Linked DNA regions of Homo sapiens. The protein of the gene in region 4 interacts with the protein of the main gene of each other region in a biochemical or structural test. Each region holds a gene or a part of one and is shown on either strand. Other genes may lie near its edges.

Region 1 (3,500 bases), on a different chromosome or scaffold from region 4:
CGCACCCGGCCTCAACCAGCTATCTTAACACAGAGTTGCTACCAACTTCACTCAGTCCTGAGCTTGGATTACCAAATTCTTTCTCTCTCCTCTCCAGACTCCCGGCTAACCACTTCACCCTACACACCATTTCAGCCACAAATTTATCTGTTTCCCAAACAGGCTGCAGGCTTTGAGACAGTTCCTCTGCACAGTCTCCTCCACATGCCCTTGTCCGTGTGCTTCTCTGCCTGAAAAACTCCAGCTCAAATGTCACCGTTCTACAAGAGACGTCTTCCCAGCTTTGCCCAACATTCAGTCCCACTCTCCTCCTTTTTTGAAACACCTTATACCTAACTCCTGAGTCACGCAACTTCTCTCCACCTCCACGGCACCCTCCGAGTCAAAAGTCCAAGGACCCTGCCCTAAATGATCTCCTTATGGCCACTGCGACCCCGTGAGTCTATTCTTCACTGGGCAGAGTATGATCCCAAAAGGCAATGTGATTATGAGGTTCCATGGTCAAATGTTGTACCACCCCCTCTTCCACACTTTTCTCAGAATAAAGACAGTAACATCTAACAAAGGCTGCAAGGTTGGATGGTGCGTCTGTCCCTCCCCTCCAGCTCTGTGCCCAAGACACACAACTCCTTGCTGAGTTCTCCAAAGTGCTCCAAATTCCCTCCAGCCAAAGGTCCACCACACATGCTGTCCCCACTGTCTCATGCTGTAAACACGTCACTTCCACGGGAACGGTTCTCTGACTTCAGATTGTGTTCCCTTCCTTTGGGAAACATCTCTCAGTTTGGAGTGACGTGTACGTAACTGTGATTATCTGATTAGCAAGCTGTCTTCCTCAATGGACCCATAAACTCCTCCGCGAGAGAAACAATGCCTGTTTTCGCTCATCACTCCCTCCTCAGTGCCTGGTACACAGCAGCCACTCGGTAACTATTTGCTGAATGAATGAACAAACGAATGAATGAATGTTCTTGACTATGTTGTTCACACTTGTGTTACAGGAATTACCACCCTAAAACTGGATGCACCCAGCCATTAGCCTGCTTCTCTCCCTCACTACCCAGCGAACCTCTAAAGCACAGGAATTCTCTCTTCAGCTCTATACTCCTAACGTCCGGCCACCAAAATCTGTGAACAATCACAAAAGATATAAAGTCCTTCATATGTGGTTCTGAAAAAAGTGTCTAGTATTCTACAAATTAATTCTAAACAAAATAGTAAACCACACTTGGAAGCCCCGATTTTGCATTCTATTACAAGTCAGAAGTACTTAAATGTGGTTATCTCTCAGGAGTGGGACCTGAGTTGGGAAGTGTTTTGTTTTTTGCCATTGCAGTACTCTGATGAAACAAAGTGACAGAAGACAAAAACATGATTTTGAAGAAGATGGAGAAAAATTCAGGTGAATTACCCAGTTTCTCATTATTCCCTAGGGCAGGTGACTTACCAATCTCCAACTAATAAAAAGTTTGTCCTCTCATAAATCTAGTGCAAAGGCAATGGATGGACAAGAATCTGAATGTGAATCAGACCTCCTTTTTTGTTTTTTGAGATGGAGTTTCACTCTTTCGTCCAGGCTGGAGTGAAGTGGCGTGATCTTGTCTCACAGCAACCTCTGCCCCCACGGGTTCAAGCTATTCTCCTGCCTCAGCCTTCGGAGCAGCTGGGATTAAAGGTGCCCGCCACCACACTCGGCTAATTTTTGTATTTTTAGCAGAGATGAGGTTTTACCATGTTGGCCAGGATGGTCTCAAACTCCTGACCTCAGGTGATCCACCCACCTCGACCTCCCAAAGTGCTGGGATTACACGCGTGAGCCACCACGCCCAGCCAGACCTCTTTTTACACTATGAACACCGGACAGCATGACTACTACTAAGGGGGTGGAAGTCTTCAAAATATTTCTTATCTTTTCTTTTTTGACGTAAGAGTCTCGCTCTGTCACCCAAGCTGAAGTGCAGTGGCACAATCTCGACTCACTACAATGTCCACCTCCCAGGTTCAAGCGATCCTCCCACCTCAACCTCCCAAGTAGGTGGGACTACAGGAGAGCACCACCATGCCCAGTGAATTTTTGTATTTTTGTAGAGAAAGAGTTTTGCTACGTTGCCCAGGCTGGTCCCAAACTCCTGAGCTTGAGTGATTCGCCTGCCTCAGCCTCCCAAAGTGCTGGGATTACAGGCGTGAGTCACTCACTGCACCTGGCCCAAAATATTTCTTAAGAAAAAAAAAAATTGTTTGGACAACATGTTATAAGTTGTGGCAGCACTTCCACAATCCCCTGCACACTGGATCCTGATAAGTCACTTCAATCTCCAGAATATCTGCTTCATTCCCTGGCAAAATTAGGTAAACCTAAGAAAACTGACTTCAGTGGATGTTTTCAATAATTTTGAAAACAAGGTTTGCTCAATAAAGTTCAGTGACTAGATACAACAGACCATATTATGAAACAACGGAACAACAACAACAAAATACTCCAGTGGAAAAAAGCATAGAAGACACACACCAAACTGACGATTAAGGATCAGAGAGGAAGGGAATGACTTCTACTTTTCACTTTAAATACGTCTGTGCTGTTTTCGTGTCTTAAAAATAGCATGTCTTTATACTAGAAAATAAAATAAACGACTTTATTAAAATGTACCCCACACAAACTTTAGTGAATAGTAACATATTATAGTAACAAATTTTGTAATTAGTAACATTAAAGTTTCTAAATGCACATTTCATTCATTCATTCTGTAAATGTTTATGGAGGAACTACTAAGGGGAAGTCACAGTGTGAAAGATTATGCCTTCATCAGTCTCTTCCAGAAAACCAGTCTGGCAAAGTAGAAAAAGCAAAGGATTTAGAAGTCAAAACACCTGCTTTTAAAAGGTCCTGATGGCCAGCAGCCATTTGACCTCAAGCCACAACCTCTCTGGGTCTTATCTTACTCATCTGTAAAATGGTTATAATAATACAGGACAGAGTTGCTGTAAAGGCTCAAACAAGCTAAGGCACTTTCTAAACTATGCAGTTTATAGAGTTTATAGGCTTCAAATGATGACTACTACAATGCTTAGTATCTCGTAATAAATATGTTTCTCCTTCTCCAATGATCAGATCTACCCAGAAAGCCTACTTCAGGTCTTGAATAAATATATATATAGTCTTGGCCCGGCGCGGTGGCTCACGCCTGTAATCCCAGCACTCTGGGAGGCCGAGGTGGGCAGATCCCGAGGTCAGGAGATGGAGACCATCCTGGCTAACACCGTGAAACCCCGTCTCTACTAAAAATACAAAAAATTAGCTGGGCGTGGTGGCGCACACCTGTATTCCCAGCTACTCCGGAGGCTGAGGCAGGAGAATGGCGTGAACCCGGGAGGCGGAGCTTGCAGTGAGCCGAGATTGCGCCACTGCACTCCAGCCTGGGTGACAGAGGAAGACTTCGTCTCAAAAAATATATATATATAAAAATATATATAAATATAAAAATATAAATAAATATAAATAC
Region 2 (3,500 bases), about 93 Mb from region 4:
ATTGACAAACTTCTATTTAAGAAATACCGACTACAACCAACAAATGTTTAATATGCAGCAAATGAAAAAATCATGTCTAGGATACTCAACCCAAGACATGAGCACATCATGTACAAATTCATTGTAAACTTACAAAATAAGTTTCAAAATTTCTGCAAGCCCTCACTATACAAACTCAGAATCCTCTTTATTTTTGAGACAGGGTCTGGCTCTGTCACCCAGACTGGAGTACAGTGGCACAATCTCAGCCCACTGCAACCTCCATCTCCTGGGCTCAGGCGATCCTCTCACCTCAGCCTCCCAAGTAGCTGGGACTATGGTATGCCACCAAGCCCGGCTGATTTTCATATTTTTTGTAGAGATGGGGTTTTGCCATGTTGGCCAGGCTGCTCTTCAACTCCTGACCTCAAGGGATCCACCCACCCTGGTCTCCCAAAGTGCTGGGATTACAGGCATGAGCCACTGTGCCAGGCCTGTTCTTAGGGAAAGCTTTTTAGGTTTATTAATGAAAATCCTAATGTTACTAATTGAGACATCAGTTAACACCCAACTTAGTGATTCCCATCCAACCATAATTATGTATTTTTCAAGAAAATACATAATTTACTAACACATTTTCCTTACCATAGCCATTTTCAAAAGAAGGTAGGGTACTAACACTTTCCAGTTTAGATGGCCAAAGCCCGGTCAGTCTCTATAATTAAACAATTATTTTAAACCCTAGTTATGCTAAAACCAAGCTATTCTTATCACAAGTCCCATTCTGCTAACCACAAAATTTAGAGAATTTGTACCTGGAAGATACCACCACGTGTCAATTACAATATACGTATTCCTTGGTCAATTCTGATATCACAGGACCGGAAAAAATAGCTGCTTGGTGTCTAGATTGTTTGGGTATTAAAACCACTGCACATGGATAAGCTATTTGTTCAGTCGGAGAGAAAGGGCATAGAGTGACAGAGCAACAAAAAGACACACAGAGAATGTATTTCTTGTGAAAGAAAAGAATGAAATGAAATGAAATGTAGAAACCCTAATGGCCTTTTGCTTTGGAAAATTAACTCCACAAGCCACTAAAAATACTATCAATTAGATCAGAAAAGACATTCGGTATGTATGTGTTCCTCAAGCATTTTAGAAAGGGGATATGCTATAACTTCCCTGTTGGTTCCAGATTCAACACAGCACAAAGCAAGAAAACTTTTATTTACTACACTCACAAGTATGATTAAGTGTTCCTGTTTACTCTGGTAGGTTAAAATATCAAATATTAGTTCCCACAGAAGAACTTTTTTTTAAACATCTAATCCTATTCGAAGGATAAAAGGGGAAAAACTCATTAAATGTTGAACACTGCCACTTTAAGTACCATTTTTGTCTTCGGGTGAATGTACATAAGACTAAATCATGATCCAACAATAGTTTTCTATTTGGTTTCACTAGTATCACTCAAAGAACTTGACACAGGCTAATGCTTTAACACTTTCTTATCTGAGACAAATTTAACTCTAAGAACATATGACTCAACAATGTACAAAGATTTAAGAATTTGCCAATCTGTCAATCATTTTAAAGAGTCCATATAATATACACATAGCAATATAATATTCATAACCAGAAACTGCACTAAGTAAACACATCATTTAGTTTAAGCTCTACCTGAAAACATGCTGTTTTATTAAAACAAAACCCAAAGACTTAAATCTCAAGTTATATGGTTTTACAATTAAGTCTTACTGAAGCAGCACAGATTTCCTTTCTTACAAACAAGTTAATATGCAGGAAGAACCCACAAAGTGCACACCAACAATGTGACAAATTGTAATATGTGAAATACAAATAAATCCTGAAGTTAATCTGAAGAATGTCAAGGAGTTACCAGAGAGGTTATGTAGTGCCCTTGATTTTTATTTTACCTACAAGTCTACAAATTCTAAAATTTACTCAATTGATTTAACTTTTTTAATAAACAGCACCAGTCTTGCCCATTGATACAATTAAAATTTGACCTTCTCAGTTCTTAGTTCACAAGTTTATTATGAAAAACACTGCAGTGCTCTTGTGCAGTCACATCGTCTTACAGGAAGGGGAAAAAACAGTTCTGTTCAAAACAACTCACCAGGTTCTGACAATAACAAAGAACAACATGGGGCTGAGATTTGAGTAGGGAATAAACTGAGTGCAGACAAATCATATAATTAAATTAAACGGTATCCCTGAAAATAAAAAGAACAATTTCAAAACTCACAAGTAGAAGGGAGGCCTTGGTAATTATTTTTAAAAATGTTCATTAAGCTCCAATGATTGTTTGCTGCTATCCTTATCTACAGTCATGCTGAGTAAAGCTATAGCTAAATGGAAGTTAAATTGTATTCACGAGGTGTTAATGTTTACATCTTATTATCTGCAGTCTCTCAGAGAAAGCAAAAGTAACTACAAATAGCGCTATGCCAGAAACTGGTTTCTTGACCAACAATGTCGCTTCAGCATGCAATGAACTGGTTCATTCTAAAGTGGTCACGGCTGTTGATGACAAGAGGCTTTGTATTTTTATATGGCACATCTTTTGGTCCATGTGAAAACAAGTTTTTTGAATGTTAACTATTTTCTGACACTTTGGAGTTACTGTTGCTCTTCCCATTTCCATTAGGTCGATATATGGTTCATGGCAATACTGTACAAGTTTAAAATTTCATTACAGGAAGTAGTCTGGGGTACGACGAGTAACATGTGGCTCGCCTCTACGAGGTGCTGGGTCAAACTGCAAGCTGAAAAACAAGACCGATTCATGGTTTATGTTCCACGACCTCCATGTAGTGACAATCAAGATCAAGAACATGAGTCTTCCAAACTTTACACTTCCTATTCAATTTTGGCTTGTCTTAATGTAACAGAACCTTAATGATAATGGTCTGTTAACTGTACTCCCCTTGAAAGAGTCAAGGCAACTTCAGCCACAGAGACTATGCTTTTATAAAAACATGGTTTTTACCTTGACTGAAATTTCAAACAAAACAAAACAAAACATGGTTGGCCGGGCGCAGTGGCTCACGCCTGTAATCCCAGCACTTTGGGAGGCTGAGGCGGGCGGATCACGAGGTCAGGAGATCAAGACCATCCTGGCTACCACGGTGAAACCCCATATCTACTAAAAAAATACAAAAAAATTAGCCGGGCGTGGTGGCAGACGCCTGTAATCCCAGCTACTCGGGAGGCTGAGGCAGGAGAATGGTGTGAACCCGGGAGGCAGAGCTTGCAGTCAGCCAAGATCGCACCACTGCACTCCAGCCTGGGTGACAGAGTGAGACTCCGTCTCAAAAAACAAACAAACAACAAAAAAACACAAAACATGGTTTTAAAAGTGAAAAACCTAGTAATTCATACGAAGATCTATATATAATAAGTTCCTGTTGGTGTGTTTCAATGTAGATCCATTAAAAAAAAAACAAAACTTAAAAATAAAAGTTGGAATCTGACATAGCATAATCCCTTAATAA
Region 3 (3,500 bases), on a different chromosome or scaffold from region 4:
AGTATAGAAGAAATTACTTAATTAGGGATAAGGAGACCTGGCTACTCATCCCCTGTGCCACCTTAGGTAGGTCACAATCCTTCTGGGCCCCAGTAAGCTCATCAGTACAATAAATAACACTGCTTGTTTGAAAGCAGGATATCAGTCTATAGGATTTCTTAAGGTCCAATTTGGTTTTAAGACTTACATTTTTATTAAAACAATCTCAAAAAACATTTGCCAATCTATGGGAAAAACCAATAATCATCCAAATACTTTCTTAGACAGAACACAGAAATCAATACAGTCTTACATTGTAAAGAAAAAGAGGACAGGGCTGACTAGGTGTAACTTTATAGAATCAACTGCAATCTGCCATTCTTTTATATCTTGATCTGAATTTCTTAACTTGTTCATTATTATTTTGGTAAATATTTTAAAATATGGATTCCTCACTTCCCTTCTTCCAAAGTGGCCAATCCGTACAACTCAGAACAAACATTCATATTTGCAGAAGACTCCCTCTCATTCCTCCTTTGGCCTGCTCATGACCTACAAACCCAAACCTCCAAGGACAGTTTTGATCAAGGTCATACAGAACTCCTAACTCAAGAAGAGGGCTGCTGCTGATCACACAGCTGCGCTTTGCTGCTTAACTGATCGAGTTCTTTAGGACTTCATCTGGATCTGTTCAGTTCTTACCCAACAGTTTTGTGTGTCTCCATAAGGATGGTTCCATTTGGTCCTGGGACAGGCATGGAATTGTAGCGAATGCTGACTTGTGACTTACGCAGCAGGCTCTCTCGGGCTATCTTGAGTCCTTCATAGAACATTGCTAGTAAAAACACTGCCACAAAAGCTCCAGCCATTTCTAAGTATGGAAGGAAAATATGGAGGTACTGTCAAACATGTGCAAAATCATTAGCCAATGTGCTGTCCAGCTAGAAAGACACATAGAAAAAATGCTACTCTCAGCTTTTGAAGACATTATATTTTTACCTCTTCTCTTGCTCAGATAGGAGAACGGCTAAGATGGTGTAACTGAAAACTATTGCCTCTGCCAAGAACATATTTACTTTCTGATTAAGATAAGAAAAATAATCAGAACAACAATAACCTTTTGGTCAGACTGCTTGATATCATTAAATTAGGTTTGTTACACTGAAACACACAATGTAGAATATGGAACAGGGAATAAAACAATTTAGTTTCATCAGTGGCTGACTACATTTCCTGAATAGGCATTTCAATTCTAAGTCTTTCACACTGTGAAGTGTTGGTAATGATATAAATGTATTCAAACTGCTAATTTAACACATTACCTGAACTAAATGCTCTCCTTCTTCCCAAAACAAATTGATTTTATGGCTCCAAACAGACATCTGGTACCTAAGGCAGTCCAACTGACTATTGAGTTTGCGCAAGTTAAATTTAAAGTATACCATACAACATAATAGACACAAACAGATGGGTAATCATCTACCTCAAAACTAGGAGTGTCTAAGATGGGCCGTGCCAAGAATCAGGAAGGATGTGGGCCATAGTTTGGTAGACTAAAAGAACACTGGTCTAGGTAGCTCTAGAAGGTCTGGGTCCTTGTCCTAGCTCTGACATATTAACTCTATGATTGATGGCGAGTCATTTCACAATTTGTGGCACTTAATTTATTGTAAAATTGAAGTATTAGAACAATAGTTTTAAACTTATTTTGTGGTACTTAATTTGAGTTAGTCTTATGTCCAGGACTAATAACTTATCAAATAAGTAAACACTCTGAGGCCGGGCATGGTGGCTCATGCCTGTAATCCCAGCACTTTGGGAGGCTGAGGTGGGTGGATCACTTGAGGTGAGGAGTTCGAGACCAGCCTGGCAAACATGGCAAAACCCCGTCTCTATTAAAAATACAAAAATTAGCCAGGCATGGCGGTAGGTGCCTGTTTAACTCCAGCTACTCAGGAGGCTGAGGCAGGAGAATCGCTTGAACCTGGGAGGCAGAGATTGCAGTGAGCCAAGATAGCTGCCATTGCACTCCAGCCTGGGTGACAAGAGTGAAACTCCGTCTCAAAAAAAAAAAAAAAAAAAAAAATTAAACACTCTGGAAAAGAATGAAAGAAAATGGATTGCAAAAGATTCTATCTGGTATCTAAATTATTTTTTAGAGCTCCAAAACATACATGTTAGTTAACAGAGGTTTACCAGAGGACCAAAAAAGTACTGTGTTTCCTACCTTCTAGGTAGGAAATAGGAACCAAGATGGTTATGCATCATTACCATGTTGACTTAGTAATTAGGACAGAAAGAGGTGCTGGACTTCCAAATTATTTGTCACTGTCTCTCATGTGACTATCACCTTCCAACACTACCTAATGGCTTACTCACCTCCAGCTGTATTGATCACCAAACCGGAAAACAGTAGTTCCACATTCTTAAAGCCAAAGTAGAAGGTCATAGGCTGCCAGAAAACCAAAACAAGTCAGTTAGAGATGAATGAAAATTCTAAATGAGAATTTGGGGCAAAGAAGCTTAGAACATTTAAAAGTAGAAGATCTGGATAATAAGAGACATTCACGTGAGTGGGAGGCTTTTGCCCTCATGTTAGCGTTACCACCACAGGCACCGAGCATGAGTATTCTACTAGGCCCCCACCATCAACTTTTCTCCTGGGCCCCCACCATCAACTTTTATCTTTTTTTTTTTTTTTTTTGATACGGATTCTCGCTCTGTAGCCCAGGCTGGAATGCAGTGGCGAGATCTCGGCTCACTACAACCTCCACCTCCTGGGTTCAAGCGATTCTCCTGCCTCAGCCTCCCAAGTAGCTGGGACTACAGGCGAATGCCATCATGCCCAGCTAATTTTTTGTATTTTTAGTAGAGATGGGGTTTCACCGTGTTAGCTAGGATGGTCTCGATCTCCTGACCTTGTGATCCACCTGCCTTGGCCTCCCAAAGTGTTGGGATTACAGGCATGAGCCACTGTGCCTGGCCAACTTTTGTCTTTTTCTCTTTTCCACCCAAGGCATAAAGACCAGAACCCCTAATTCAGAAAAGAGTCGATTTCAGAAGGGACCACCAAAGAAAGAAGCCTAAAATCTTGGTTCTGGTGTGACTCTGTAAGTAGCTTGCCACATAATCTGGAGCAAATGACTTGACTTGCTTGGGTCTGCTTTAGTTATCCTCACTGGTAAACTGACCTTTAAAGATAATAAGCTTCCAGTACTAAAATTCCATTATTTCTATTACCCAAGTGGGTGGGAAAGGGCCTGCATTGCCCCTCCTATGGCACTCACCATCATCATCATGCTGCTGTCTCCTCCACCATGGGAGTGTGAGGCTGAAGTGGTTGGGTGATGGTGAGAAGGTTGCATGGTACTGTTGGAGTCCATATAGCTCATCCCCATATGGTGGGAATGATCCATTTTTTCCAGGAAAAGTTGAGAGTCAGCAGAAGATTCTTTTAAGAGAAAGAATTATATATAATAATTTAAGGATATAAAAATCTTATCTCTTTTTTTTATTTTTAG
Region 4 (4,146 bases):
ATTCCCACTTTAAAATTGAAAGAATAAAAACGTGTTAAGGAAATAGCTTAATCCTGGGGAAGGGTGGGCTTTAAAAGCTATAGATCGTAATTTAAGAAAGCAAACAAACATTTCAAGCACACCAAGGGCATTCCAAATACCCATGAGCCACCATCAGCTTAAGCAATAAAACATTACAAATACAACTCAAGCCCTGCATGACTCCTCCCAGATTCCCTTATCCTTCATCTGTCCTCAGAAGTAACCACTATCCTGAATTTGGTGTTTGTGTTTCCCACGTTTAAATATTTTTACATGGGTAGGAATCCATAAAAAATATAGTAACATTATTTTTCATATTTATTTTTACAAATGTCATTGCATATATTTTGATAACACAATACCTGCACTATACACACAGTTCAAAAGTACAAAAGCATCTATGGTGCAACACAATGTCCTCCTTTACCTAGTCCCCTATACTGAGCAACTAACGTAACCAGTCTTGTGTGTATCTTTAAAGAGACATACTCTATATATAAAAGCAGTCACATTTAAGATACAGATTTGCCCCTGCCTTTTATACATAAGTGGTAGGCATATTGAACACACTGTTCTACTTTTTCCTCTTAAAAATACACCTTGGAAATTGTTCTCTAAAATATACAAAGTTCCTCCCTTTTTCTTCCTTAATGTTTGCAAGGTATTTCACTATATGGATAAACCATAACTATTACTATTAGAAAGGTTACTTCGAAAGTTTTGTATTAATATTTACAACAATATGGCAGCGAATAACCCATTATTTCATACACGAGTACATCTATAAAATAATTCCTAGAAGTTGAATTGTTAGGTTAATTTTAATAAATGCTGTCACTCTCTCATGTAGAGGTAGGATACCAATTTATACTCTACCAGCATTGTATGAGTGGTTCTGTAGGTTTCTAAAATTTATATAAATAACAGCAAACTATACATATTCTTATACAACTTGCTTTCGAGGTCTAACCTTATATTTTTAAGATTCATTCACACTGATATATATAGCTCTAGTTCATGTTTATAATTTTTACTTAAAGGAATTTTTAAATAACTTCTACTATGATTCATTCACAAAGTACCTATGTAGCTGAAATTGCAGTTTTACACAGAAATACTTACGAACTTAGGCCAAGCATGGTGGCTCATGCCTGTAATCCCAGCACTGTGGGAGGCTGAGGTGGGTGGATCACCTGAGGTCAGGAGTTCGAGACTAACCTGGCCGACGTGGTGAAACCCCATCTCTACTAAAAATACAAAAAAAAAATAGCTGGGCGTAGTGGTGGGCGCCTATAATCCCAGCCACTTGGGAGGCTGAGGCTGGAGAATCGCTTGAACCCGGGAGGTGGAAGTTGCAGTGAGCTGAGATCGCACCATTGCACTCCAGCCTGGGCGACAAGAGTGGAACTCCATCTCAAAAAAAAAAAAAGAAAAAGAAAAAAAAGAAATACTTGCCAACTTAATAGTTTATATGTATAAATAACTCATTTGCCGAAGATACACCCAGCCTACCAAAGAGACCATCTTCTCTAGAAAAACTAACAAAGACTGCCATTTTAATGATATTACTCTGCTCATCCATGCTTTTTTTGGGCAGAGGGAAGGCCCACAAGGGCACAGAACCTAACATCTTGATAACTAGAAGGAAAAAAAAAAGATGCCTTGGAAACAATAAAGACAATTCAAGCATAATCACAAAATAACCCTAGTTTTCTGTAAACTTTCCTCTCAAAATGCTACCACTAAGTAACCAAACAAATTTTTTGGCCTGTAACAGGAAACAATCACTCCGAACTTCCAGCCTACTCTCCCCGCAAAATTAAATTTCCTATAAGCATGGAATATCATACTTAGACTTTTTCTGCATATCAATATCATATATTTTATTAGATCCCTCTTCATGTTAAATTTACCAATATGTATAAGTAATTTTTAAAGCTTTCTTTACTCCAAATTGTCTAAACATATGGTTAACCCTATTATTTGCAAGAATTCTTGCATAATTAAGGCTGTTGGTGTTTAATTACCAACATCACCACAATAGTGGCCATTTCTGTGTGTTCACTGAGTATCCATGTCCCCCTTTCTCTCTCCTAACAACATCCATTTATGTGTAGGTGTCTACCCTGTCCCCCCACACTATCCAAGTACTTAGAAGATGTCTCCCAGCCCAGCACGGTGGTTCAGGCCTGTAATCCCAGCACTTTGGGAGGCCGAGGCGGGTGGGATCACCTGAGGTCAGGAGTTCAAGACCAGCCTGGCCAACATGATGAAACCCCATCTCTACTAAAAATACAAAAATTAGCAGGACGTGGTGGCACACGTCTGTAATCCCAGCTACTAGGGAAGTTGAGGCAGAAGAATCACTTGAACCTGGGAGGCAGAGGTTGCAATGAGCTGAGATTGCGCCAATGCACTCCAGCCTGGGTGACAAGAGCAAAACTGTCTCCAAAAAAAAAAAAAAGTGTTCCCTGTTCACCACATGCACACTAAAATCTATCTACTGCTTTTTGATTTTTTGATGATGGCCATTCTTGCAGGAGTGAGGTGGTATCACATTGTGGTTCTGATTTGCATTTCCCTGATCATTAGGGATGCTGAGCATTTTTTCATGTTTGCTGGCCATTTGTATATCTTCTTTTGAGAACTGTCTATTCATATCCTTAGCCCACTTTTTGATGGGACTATTTGTTTTTTCTTACTTATTTGTTTGAGTTCATTGTGGATTCTGGATATTAGTACTTTTTCAGATGTATTGATTAGGAAGATTTTCTCCCACTGTGTGGGTTGTCTGTTTACTCTGCTGTTCCTTTTCCTGTGCAAAAGCTCTTCAATTTAATTAGGTCCCATCTATTTATCTTTGTTTTTATTGCATTTGCTTTTGGGTTCTTAGTCATTAAATCCTTGCCTAAGCCAATGTCTAGAAGGGTTTTTCCAATGTTATCTTCTAGAATTTTTATAGTTTCAGGTCTTAGGTTTAAGTCCTTAATCCATCTTGAGTTGATTTTTATATAAGGTTGAGAGATGAGAATCCAGTTTCATTCTCCTACATGTGGCTGGCCAATTATCCCAGCACAATTTGTTGAAAAGGGTGAACAGGGAACACTTCTACACTGCTGGTGGGAATGTAAACTAGCACAGCTGCTATGGAAAACAGTGTAGATATTCCTTAAAGAACTAAAAGTAGAACTACCATTTGATCCAGCAATCTCTTCTGAAAAGAAGTCATTATTCGAAAAAGATACTTGCACATGCATGTTTATAGCAGCACAATTCACAATTGCAAAATCGTGGAACCAATCCAAATGCCCATCACTCAATGTATGGATAAAGAAACTGTGGTGTATACATATATATACACACACACACACACACACACACACAAAATGGAATACTACACAGCCATAAAAAGGAATGAATTAACAGCATTTGCAGTGACTTGGATAAGAGTGGAGACTATTATTCTAAGTGAAGTAACTCAGGAATGGAAAACCAACACAGTATGTTCTAATCACTGATATGTGGGAGCTAAGCTATGAGGACGCAAAGGCATAAGAATGATACAGTGGACTATGGGGACTTGAGGGGGAAGAGTGGGAGAGGGGTGAGGGATAAAAGACTACAAATATGATGCAATGTATACTGCTCAGGTGATGGGTGCACCAAAATCTCACAAATCACCACTAAAGAATTTACTCATGCAACCAAATACCATCTGTACCCCAATAACTTAAAGAAAAATTTAAAAAATAAAACAAATTTTAAAAAAAAGATGTCTCCCACCCACCCACCTCTGTTGCACACACACATCAAAGGGTGGGTCATACTCCTCCAAGGGCAATGCCATCCCCCTTGCTAATGCCTGCTTAGGAATACAAGCATAAGCCAACTGGCACATGGCATTCCTAGCCAGAGGGACTGGATGAGCCAATGAGACTCATAAGAGATATGCTGGCCTTCCCTGCTGGAAGGACTTATCTGTGGAAAGAGAACCACAGATAAGTTCTTTACTAGGCAAAGCTAGATTTTCTATTACTTGTGGCAAAAAGCATCCCAACTGTTAACTTAAAAAATGAACAGGTTAAAGATTCTGATCAACATCAACAAATGTGATCATGAACAAAT

The links. Proteins that work in one complex are often made in the same cells at the same time.
Region 1: the proteins of PRKAA1 (region 4) and USP10 form a complex in vitro, tested with the Homo sapiens proteins (one study listed by BioGRID).
Region 2: of the proteins of PRKAA1 (region 4) and PPP2CA, one has a biochemical effect on the other in vitro, tested with the Homo sapiens proteins (one study listed by BioGRID).
Region 3: of the proteins of PRKAA1 (region 4) and SLC31A1, one has a biochemical effect on the other in vitro, tested with the Homo sapiens proteins (one study listed by BioGRID).

What each region holds. Positions count from the first base shown.
Region 1 is NC_000016.10:84,706,500-84,709,999, reverse strand, and holds part of USP10 (ubiquitin carboxyl-terminal hydrolase 10), read right to left. Parts: intron 1-3,500. UniProt on the Homo sapiens protein: Hydrolase that can remove conjugated ubiquitin from target proteins such as p53/TP53, RPS2/us5, RPS3/us3, RPS10/eS10, BECN1, SNX3 and CFTR.
Region 2 is NC_000005.10:134,195,074-134,198,573, forward strand, and holds part of PPP2CA (serine/threonine-protein phosphatase 2A catalytic subunit alpha isoform), read right to left. Parts: intron 2,772-3,500; coding exon 2,699-2,771; 3' UTR 1-2,698. UniProt on the Homo sapiens protein: Catalytic subunit of protein phosphatase 2A (PP2A), a serine/threonine phosphatase involved in the regulation of a wide variety of enzymes, signal transduction pathways, and cellular events.
Region 3 is NC_000009.12:113,256,044-113,259,543, reverse strand, and holds part of SLC31A1 (high affinity copper uptake protein 1), read right to left. Parts: intron 3,431-3,500; 5' UTR 3,396-3,430; coding exon 3,267-3,395; intron 3,090-3,266; exon of another isoform or gene 2,941-3,089; intron 2,432-2,940; coding exon 2,359-2,431; intron 851-2,358; coding exon 682-850; intron 1-681.
Region 4 is NC_000005.10:40,791,631-40,795,776, forward strand, and holds part of PRKAA1 (5'-AMP-activated protein kinase catalytic subunit alpha-1), read right to left. Parts: intron 1-4,146. UniProt on the Homo sapiens protein: Catalytic subunit of AMP-activated protein kinase (AMPK), an energy sensor protein kinase that plays a key role in regulating cellular energy metabolism.